2 separate regions of the Homo sapiens genome follow, and region 2 is linked to region 1. The links come from fine-mapping of genetic effects on gene expression. Tissue or cell type: sun-exposed skin. Region 1 holds a variant in brackets; the other region holds the start of a gene. All regions are shown on one strand. Distances are from middle to middle.

Region 1 (5,532 bases):
AAAACAATGTGATTAAATTCACTCATATCGTAAATGTCTAATAGCCCCAACCCTCCCAAAGATATTAGCATCTTAAGAGAGCCTGGAGGTTAATTTAAGTGATTTCACTAATTGAAAGGATTTCAAACAGTAGAATGCAGTAAAATAAAGAATTTTGGACACAGTAGGGAGTCATCTGGTAACAAAGCAAGAAAGCTTTTCATTTGTTCTGAATACCAGACACAGCTTTGTACAAAAGTATGAGTATCAATCTTATGCCTTGCAGTCCTCTTTTTACTTCCCAGATTCATATTTCAAAATCACATATAATGCTACTTGCAAAATTAAATTGCTGAAGAATATATCTACTGTCTTGACTTAGGAAAAAACATGCAGAGAAATCTTTTAGCTACTGCACTGTTGCAAAAAAAATATAGAATTGGTGAGTGTAAAAGAAAAAAGTACCTATCTGAAACTCACTAGAAACAGATATCACCCTACCTCTACTTTTCAGTGAAAATGTGATCTCTCTACCCATAGCACTTCCAGTTCCATAATTAAATTCAGTTGCATTGTTAATGTACTGTTGACATTAACTTGTATCTCATATACACAAGACTGGGAATACACACATGCTAACTTGAAACAGCTGTTTGCAAAATTATTACAATATGGCATACTTCTTTTAACCATTATGTCTTCTATTTAAACATGATTTGCATCTGTAAGCGCTTATCATATACAAAATTAAGGGAAGATTTATAATGTAAAAATGAATTTTGATGTTGCATTAATATTGCATTTGGTGATAGTATGGTAGAAAAAGAAAGCAAGTAGAAATATTTGTATGGATCAGAAGCCATGCCCATTGGTCTATATGCTGGAAGGGCAGGGCCTGCATGAATATCTTCCCATATACTTTAGGCTCCAATAACTCACATCTCTAAATGGGGCAATCAGTATAGCTTTTTTCCTGGCTCCTCAATTTTTGGTGTCAAAATAGCAGACTCTTCCAGATAAGTTATGTGATACTCCCTGCTTCTTTTAATAGTCTCATTTCTGGCTAGCCGATACCTGAAATTCCACAACTAGAAATGTCTTACTTTGTCCTCTCTTAAAACTTCAGTTATGAGGGCTTGAGATATGGTTCATTTAGACATGGGCATAACTTCATCAAATCCTTTCCAGTTTTGCTAGGGGCAGGGTGGAAAGAACATCTGCTTCTTCTGAGATGAGCGAGGTATAGGGGTACAGCAAAGAGCAGGCCTGAAGCACCATAGCCCTGTGCAAACTGCAAGCCTCAGGGCCCAGCACCGGGTGTCAGCAGCTCCCTGAACTTCTAGCAGCCTCCCCATTGAGTCCAGGAGGACAACTTCCACATGTACCTGACATCTTCCCCAACTACTTCTTTCGTACTCTACCTCAATCCCAACTGTAAATATACTAAAAACCACTGAATTTTATGCTTTAAATGAGTAAACTTCATGGTAGGTAAATTGTATCTCAATAAAACAGTTACAAATAATACATATAAACAATGGGAACAAACATTTGGTACTTGCTAAACAGGGTATCAGGAAATGATGATATTAATACTATTTCTAACATAGTGCGTTGTCAAAGCCTTTTAGATAACTTCTATTTCGAGCACAATTTTTAACTCCAGAAAATGCTAGAGTTTGTTAGTGCATTTGTTTGTGTGTTTTTTTTTTTTTTATAAAAATTCATGAGTGTCTTTCCTGTGCCAGGTAATTTGTTTCTAAACTGAGAGTGCAAAGATTAAAACATAATAATGCTAAGTGAAGGAAAGCAGCCAAAAAGACCACATATTGTGTGATCTTATTTATATGAAACATCCAAGGTAGGCAAATCCATAGAAACAAAAAGCAGATTGGTGGTCACTGAAGTCTGAGGAGTGGAGGTGGGGAAAGTTGAAGAGTGACTGCTATGTTTCTTTTTGGGATGATAAAAAAGTTCTAAAGTTAGATTATCTTGATGACTGCAGAACTGTAAATATACCAAAAACTACTTAATTTTACACTTTAAATGAGTGAACTTCATGTAGGTAAATTTTATCTCAATAAAACAGTTAAAAATTTTGCATATCCACAATCAAACAAACAACTCAGTCCCTTCCGCATGGAGTTTACATTCTAGGGAGGACAAACTTAAACAGACAAAGAGAAAATGGCTGGGTTGGGGTAAACAGGGAACGCTAAAGGAATGCAAAGAAAGAATACTTTGATCAGTGTATGAGGAATCAGAGAAAGATTCCTAGAGGAGATGGCATCTGAGCTAAGAAGTAGTGAACAGAGAAAAGAATGAGAGAGAGCAATGTTTGCTGAGCCCCTACTCTACATTAGAGATTGGATAGTAGAAAGATGAATGGCTCAAGGTAATCAAATAGATGATTGTAGGTAATTATACCGTGAAAATGCAATAATGGAGGTGGACACAGAAACCATCTAAGTCAAAAAGGGGAAACGAAAATGGGTGGAGGCCAACTAGAAATTCGATTTGGAGGAAGAAAGTTATGAGCTGTAGAACTGTGATCGTGCTGGGTGTCCTCCACCCAGCGGAACCTCTGCCACAGTTTACAGGACTTAGTTATGCTGCCGCATAACTAAGGGTTATGACTTACCCCTCAGCCATACTGAGGGTCATACTGAGTCATACTGAGGGATATGACTTACCTCTCAGCCACCCATCTCAGCATTTGCCAGTGAGAAGGCCCTGTGAGATCTGAGGGCAGAGGCACGGCATGTGGCCAGAGTCCCTACTGAGAGTGATTCCCATAAGTGAACTTTACTGATCCATTTACTTTCATCAGGGTACAATGTTGCCCTGCTCTCTTTCTTTCCCCGAGTTCTCTGTAGTTTTAAAGTTTAAACTATAGTTTATCGTTCTCTCTAGTTTTGGAGCCCTCGTGACTCCACAGTCCAACATTTCCTAGTATCTTCTTATTTTGGTGATTTCTGGCAGTTGGGTTACTTGTCACCTCTTAAGAAAAGCATCTAGCAAACATCTCCCCTAACACGTCCCTCCCTGCTCTGTCACTGCCTGGCGGAGGCCTCGAAGTGCATTCCCCACATGTTCAGA[C/T]GAGCACTTGGTAAAGGCATCCAGAGATATAGAACCTGTTATACTAAAGGTTTTACATACTGCTATAAATAAAAAATAAAAGGAATGTTTTAAAGGAACTAATTCGATGGATATAAGATTATTTGATACTGCTCCATTATCTATTTCATTGTGTGTGTATGTGTGTGTGCATACATTTTATCTATACATACACACACACACACACACACGTATTTATACAGTATGGATGAGTTTTTATTTGAAAATAATCCAGAATTCCTGTTTTCAAGTCTTTTATTTGACACACACTCTGCCCAGACACAAACCAGGGAAGGTTTGGCTTTGACCCAACAGTTTTGACTTTCTTGTCTGCAGAGGCAGCATAACAAGTCCATGATCAGTGGTGAAGGGAAGGCATTTATTTTCACTGTATTTGACAAGCATCCCTCCCAGGGATGCTTCCATTGGAAGAGAAATCGACTTCAAGAAGCTCAGTACTTCAAAGACTTATGATGACCCCAGGAAAGAGAAAAACACCATGTAAGCCAATCACCCACTTTGTGATTGTCCATTCTTCTGGGAAATAAGAATCTGAGATGCAATGTCTGTATCAGCCTCATCTCAGAATCCATAAATAATTCACAGAAGGTATCAATTTATTTATAGGATAGGTGGCCAAGAGAGACTTCCGGCTGTTTACCAATAGCATGGCTCTGGAAACTCCATCCTATTGAAATAATTCCTGTTCTTGGCAGGAGTAACTTGAGCTAAGGGTGTATCCACACCCTTTTAAAAACATGCCAGTGATTTTGCATAACTAATATGAACATTGAAATGGGTATTCTATAGAGGCAAGTGTGAACAGAGATCAGGTTTTCCCCTGTGGGTATGCACATGTAGTGGAAACTGATGGACCCAAATTTGTGCCATTTGATGACTAAACTCATTCTGGGCTGCAAAGGCATTGTTTCAGTTTTCTCTCATAATATTTTTAATTCAGACCAAATTTTATCTTATAAGTAGAAGAAGTAGTTGCAAATAATTCCATGCCCTGCCAATGACATAGGCACTGATTTTTAACAAAAGGCTCATAAACTCTTTTTATGATACTGTAAAACTGGAGAGCCTGTGCCCATTAAAACATAAGCTTCATGTTACATGTAATTAAGGCAAGAAGGAGAACATAAAAATGTAAGCTTTAAAATGTATCTTGTATTACATATTAAATGCACACAGAAAAATACTGCATAAGTTCCATTTCAAAGGCAAAGGTAAGGACAAGCAGGAATGATCACAGTAGATGAGTAAGCCCTTCGGTGAAAAAATCAATTTAGTAAAAAATGGGTTTCTATTTCAAGTTCTTGAGGATATACTATATTGATGATTAGAGCACATTTTCTATTTTTCCTGATTTTTAACTCAGAAAATATCATTAGAGTCACATTCACTTGCTATTTGGTTAATCTAGGTTATAATTTTTGGTCCACTAAAGACTTAAAATTATTATTTCCTTTTTCTTTGGAAATTGGACCCTCCAATGTGATTCATACTAAGAAGAGGTTGAAGAGATGTCCAAGAGCTGTCAAAGGTAGCTAGAAGGTGCTCTTATGTATCCATCCCCAAACCCAGTGGAGAAGAGCTTCCGCTGGTGTGAAGGCCTATGCTGTAGCTTCCTTTCAATCCTGCACAGACCATGATGTACCTCATGGACTATCCTCGGCTGCACTGCATTCAGTGTTGGCATTTTGCACTCTTATTTCTGTGTATTTATTGAAAACGGACACAAGAATTCTGAACCCCAGATATCCAGCTATTAACGTAAAAAAGATCTACTGGAAACCAAACAACCTCTTATACCTAAGTGGAGATTAGTGGATACATGGTTATATTACAAGTTACAACATATGGTTGTTTCATTTTAGTGTCCTTAAATTTTTTTCTAATATTCAAATTTATGATTTAATTTTAAAGGCATACCAATTATAGACCAAATAAAAATTTGAGACTGGAAAGAAAATTAAAATGTTTACCTGGATGGCATACACTGAGATTTCAATCTGCATATTTTGAACAGGTTTTATTATAAAAAAGAAAGTGGAAATACAATTGAACAAAATATATAAATAAATTGCATACCATCATTAAACTGTGTAGCGTAGCCCCAAAAGCTACATCAAATAGCTGCATTTCACCAGCCAACCATAAAATAAGTCACTATATAGTTGAGAATCAATTGGATACATTTTGTATTTATGAAACCATGTTACTTCTGAATTCTTATGTACCAATAATCAATTGTAAATATTTTGCTTTTAAAACATATCTAAACATTTTAATGGATTTCATAGGAATTACTCTTTCATATTATACAAAGTATATTTTTTTATTTTATATGATAAAATGAATCATGTGATGCTACACATAAATCACCTTAAGAAGACATCTTGGTTAGAGATATTAAATGTCTACTCATAA
Region 2 (5,000 bases), 27 kb before region 1:
CATTTTCTAATACATACCTGCCTTCCAGCTTCATTGTTATGTAGGTTCATTGCTAATAGTACTTTGTTTTCTTTGCCCGTGGTGTTTCCGATGGGGAAATCTAGGAACTTTCTGCTGAACCACATGCCATACTGGACATCATCGGAGCAGCCCCCCCAGTGCCAGCCTTCACTTGCTGAGCCGCCGTTCTGCAAGGTGGTGTCACAGGAACACTCTGTCATGTTGCCTGCACTGCATGACCTGGTCACAGAATGCACCAGGCCTGCAGCCATCACAGCATAAATAAATGCTGTCTCTTTGGTGCCTAGAAAAAATATAAATTGCTAAATTAGAGAACCAGGCAACTTCTGTTTATGTTCAGAAGAAAGCCTCCTACTCATGATCTTACTGGACAAGTAATTTTTCAGTTGCTTACAATGGATGCGTTAACGAGTACATATTTAGAAAGGAAGATTTGCTCTTGTTCTAGTCTCTTAAAAAGCAACATTAATTTTCAGTATTCCACTTGAAGAGATTGTCATATACTGTATGGTCATACATTGTCCCTTTACCTTAAAATCATCTCTTTATTTTTTAAATTTGAAATGTATGTTTGCACCCAGTTCAGTGCACAGTTGACAGTCATAGCTCAGTAATACATGCTGAATTAAAAATTCTTTGCATAGATACTGTAAACGGTAATACAACACCCAAAGAACACTAGATTGCTTTTCTTTTGAAATTTAAAATGTGCTCTCACAGAACACAAGCTGAACATTTTGGTGTGATTTTTGTTTGCATAAATAATACGTGTCAGAATGAAAATTAAAATTAAGGAAAGACCAAAGCAATTAGTAAACGGTACCGTATATTTTCACATTAAAGATTAGTCTCACATTAACATGAAACAGTTAAACATTTTATATAGTATTAGCTACTCCTCTTACAGTCTTAAAGGCAATGAAAGGTAAGATAATTAAAATGTCACTAGCAAAAACATAATTCTATTAAAAATATTGAATATTGAAAATTATGCATTTAGCACACCTGCAGTAGAGTTTGAGCTAAAATCTTTGAAAATTAAAGTCCATTAAAACATTAATAACATGGACTAGAAGGGAATCAGCAGGCGACTTTTTTTTTTTCTTTCCAGATGTTTAGTTTGGAGTAGAAACAGTTTCATGCCCGCTGTCCAATAAACCTTTTCAACAGCTGATGCATTTCAGCAACTGTGAAAAACACATCTATTTTTTTTCTTTCTGTCTCTTTTTTTTTTTTTTTTTTTTTTCTCTCTACGGGGACCAGGGCTCCTTCGGAAGGGCGTGCCGGCCAGAACGCCGCGGGGGAGGTGCGCGGCTCGGCGGGGGTGCGCGCAGGGACTGCGTGGACAAGGGTCAAAGGCGGAGGGGGAACGGAAATGAACATGAAAAACGACAGCGCATCCTTCAGCGCCCCAGTCCTAACATTCTTTGGATCTGTTGATATTCCAGGAACAATCCTGGCTCCCTGTACCTTTATCCTTACCAAGTCACTACGCACGTGGAAGTGGAACTTTGTTTTCCTGCAGCTTCCCGCGCCGCGGGAGTGCGCCGAGGAGGGAAAGATAGAAAAGCCAAAGAAACGAGAAGCGCACAAGTGGTCCTGCTCAGGTTAGCCGCACGTTGGGTGGTCGCGGACAGTCGCTTTAAAAGTCACCATTATTCTGTCAACTCGGTGCTCCTAGGAGCCAATAAAGGTGGGGCTTCGCTGCAATTAGCCACTTGTCCGGGGTTTGGTGCGCAGCGGAGTTGGTTAAATCAAAGCAGATGCGGCAGCCGCATTCCCCGCTGCCGACATCATGTTTCTCCAGCTGGTCACCCACGTAGGGGGGCGCTACGGGGTCCGAGGGGGTCGGCGGGGTAGGAGAATTAGAGTTTTTTTTCCAACTCTGGCGGGGCACCGCAGGAAAGAGGAAGAGCTCCAGCCCCTAGAGCTCCGCTCTGGAACTGGGGAGTCACCTCCCTCCAGGCTCGCACCTGCTCCCCAGGTCTGGCCTTTGTAGCTCTCAATCCCCGTGCACTAAAGGGCTTCTTCTGGAACTTAGAGAGCTACAGGACCACGTAGCACTATTTACTTTATTTGCAGGAACCGGTGGAGGAGTTGTCGCCTTCCGTCCCCCACCAACCCCTAAGGACCCAGGACTCACCGCTGCTCAGCTCGTAGCCAAAGAGGGGGCTGGCGCCCATCGGGGCGGTAGTGGCGGCGGCGGTGATCATGCAGTTCCATCTCTCGTGTCTGAACTGGCTCCCGCACTCCTGAATGCCCAGCCGGGCGCCCTCTCGGATGCTCGGCAGCAGGTACGGTTTCCTCTTGCACAGCTCCTTCTGGCGGCTGTTCAGCGGCAAATTGGCGCAGCCCAGCTTCTCTGGAACCCCGAAGGAGGCAATGCCCAACCACCTGTAAGACACGGCCGCCCGTAGCGTTAAGCCGCTCCCCAATTCCAGATGTTTTCCGAAAAATTAGGTCACTCGTCTAAGGGTCCCCGCCCTTCTCCCCCAGCCTCAGTTGAAAGTTCCCTAGGATTGGGCACCCCTTTTGCCACCTACCCGATGCTTCCCTGCCACCTCCATACTCACATCCAGTTTCCTTGGGCTCCGTAGGGGAACAGCACGAGCAGGGCTGCCCACAGCGCGCACAAGCGGGCCAGTCCCAGGAGCGCCGCCCTGTCCATCGCCCCCGCATGGAGTCCCCCAGCCCAGCCGCTCCTCTTTTGCACCCCCTCCCCAGAGGCCCTTCGGGCCGCAGGTCAGTTGTCCAGCACCAAGTTATCCCTCGCCCTCTTCCTCCTTGCATACAACATTAAAAGGCCAGCAGTGATAGGGACTCTCAGCAGCTTCCCCCTCGTTTGCAGGGAGCTGTAGGAGAGATGGAGAGAGCAGCCTGGGGATCTCCTCCTGCGCAGGGGTGGAGATGTGCAGGAGATGCGGGAGCGCCCCTCGCATTCCTAGGTGAGAAACTTCTGTTGATGTATCCGCGTCTCCATCGCCCCCGGCCTCTCCTCCCATCTCCTCCCCCTGGCCGCGCCTGGAGCCTGATTGGCTGAGCAGCGGCCCCGCATCTCATCATCTCGGGACCTCAGGCTCTTATTGGTGGAGAGCGGCTCCGCGGGGGGCGCTCCGGGCACTGGCCTCAGGGACAGCGTGTCCAGACCTGGGTGTGTCATGACCTTTCCTGCTGTCACAGTCTCCTTAGAACGGGTCGTTGTGGGGTTGATTCAACCCGAAGACTAACAGGACGCTCTGTCTTAGCAACCTTGGGGGAAAGCGTGGGTTTGATGAGTCCCACCCATCCCACCAACATCTGGGTTACCCTCTGGGTGTAGTGGCTGGAAAATGTCACTGACCTTTTTTTCTTCTCCTTCACCTCACAGGAGAATAATCTTTTTGAGTCAGAGTTGGTACCGAACAAATTAACCTTCCAGTCCCCTGCTTGAGGTCCCACTGTCAGGAGACTTTAGAGAGTGGGTGAAGTGCTGTCAGGCTTACAATCACTGTCATTTATGTATGCATTTATTTTGAGCGAAAGAGAAGATTCCAGTCTAGCATCTCATCTGCCATATTTCAATCGTGCTCTGTGATTTCCTTTTCCCTATTTGTCTTATTTCCTGCAGTCCCTGAGAACGCTGTAAGTCCCCTGCAGAAGATGGGGACAAAGAAAGTGAGAGGTTTCTGGAGAGTTCTAGAGTACATGAGAGATGTGCTCTGATCTTTTTCTCCAGTCCTACCTTACGATTCTCATGGTGGGAGGGTCCCTGCCCTTCTCCCCCAACCTCAGTTGAAAGTTCGCTAGGATTGGGCACCCCTTTGCCACCTACCCGATGCGTCCCTGCAGGACAGGGCTACACATGGAAGACACATTTTTAAAAACGTACTTATTAAATACCTGCTGTGTGCCTAGTCCTGTGGGAATTTATAAAGACAAGCTCTCTTCCCACAACTGTACAAATAAACCATACACAAGTGTAAAAGAAAATACGTTTAGATGATCAGTAAGAGAGATTAAAGAATCTAGCAGGGTACTCCCTGGAGCCGAAGATAGTTCAGAAGCAGGAAGTGTTCCAGTTACTGGCAGATTTGGAAGGTTAGTTAATCAGTGTTTTGTAGGATGGAAGGTCTCCGAGAGTTATCTGAAGGCAAGTGCAACGTGTTTAGCTGTGGTATTGGGAAAGCCTGCCTCACCTAATTAGACACAAGAAATGTTTCTAAGAAGCATTATCTGTCCTTAGAGATCTTTTGAAGTGTTAATACATTCCCATGGTGGACGTATCAGCTCAGTGGGTACCCAAAGCCAAAATTACTTAAATAAAGGATTTGGGGCCAGGTGCAGTGGCTCACACCTGTAATCCCAGCACTTTTGGAGGCCAAGATGGGCGGATCACCAGAGGTCAGGAGTTCAAGACCAGCATGGCCAACATGGTGAAACCCTGTCCCTGCTAAAAATACAAAATTATTTGGGTGTGGTGGTGCATGCCTGTAATCCCAGCTACTCGGGAGGCTAAGACAGGAGAATTGCTTGAACCTAGGAGGTGGAGGTTGCAGTGAGTTGAGATAGCGCCACTGCACTCCAGCCTATGGCACACAGTGAGACTCCGACTCAAAAAAAAAAAAAAAAAAAGGATTAGATAGCATTAGCTGCTTATCTCCTATATCAATCAGTGAGCAATAAAAGCTCACTGAAATTTTCATCCTATCCCATTCACTCCCTTATCCAACAAATGTTTATTGAGTGTACACTATGTACCAGGTTCTAAAGCCACATTTTAAAGAGTCGAGGAGTCAAGTTGATGATAGGATGTAGATACTGATCCAGAAATATTTTGGCTAACGGCTAGTGGCCTCTCTGAAAGTCAGAGCCTTCATCCAAGCTCACTTTATTCTGTGAGCTTCTCCAAGAGGGACAATGGCGGATTCATTGCTGTACCCCTGCCATTGGGCCTAGTACATAAGATCCTGTTTTTGAACAAAATTTATTGAGTGAATTAA

Alleles and levels. Positions count from the first base shown, and alleles are read on the strand shown. Sizes are in standard deviations (SD) of each study's normalised expression.
For the expression in sun-exposed skin of the gene that starts at base 2,982 in region 2, allele T in region 1 goes with a lower level than allele C (moderate effect, 0.54 SD a copy in GTEx).

What was found.
Region 2: WNT16 starts here. The variant in region 1 is fine-mapped to the expression of WNT16 in sun-exposed skin (GTEx, PIP above 0.99). The same link has a PIP of 0.9 or more in unexposed skin.

The regions. Positions count from the first base shown.
Region 1 is chr7:121,299,536-121,305,067 of GRCh38, reverse strand. No RefSeq gene overlaps it. Among named protein-coding and RNA genes, the nearest start is that of WNT16, 27 kb to the left of the region's middle. RefSeq lists an enhancer at 2,666-2,735. The variant C/T (reference allele first, on the strand shown) is at 3,079.
Region 2 is chr7:121,326,982-121,331,981 of GRCh38, reverse strand. It overlaps WNT16 (Wnt family member 16), which reads right to left and starts at 2,982. Exons shown (of 4, transcript NM_057168.2): 1 at 2,595-2,982; 2 at 2,165-2,415; 3 at 18-304. The coding sequence starts at 2,689.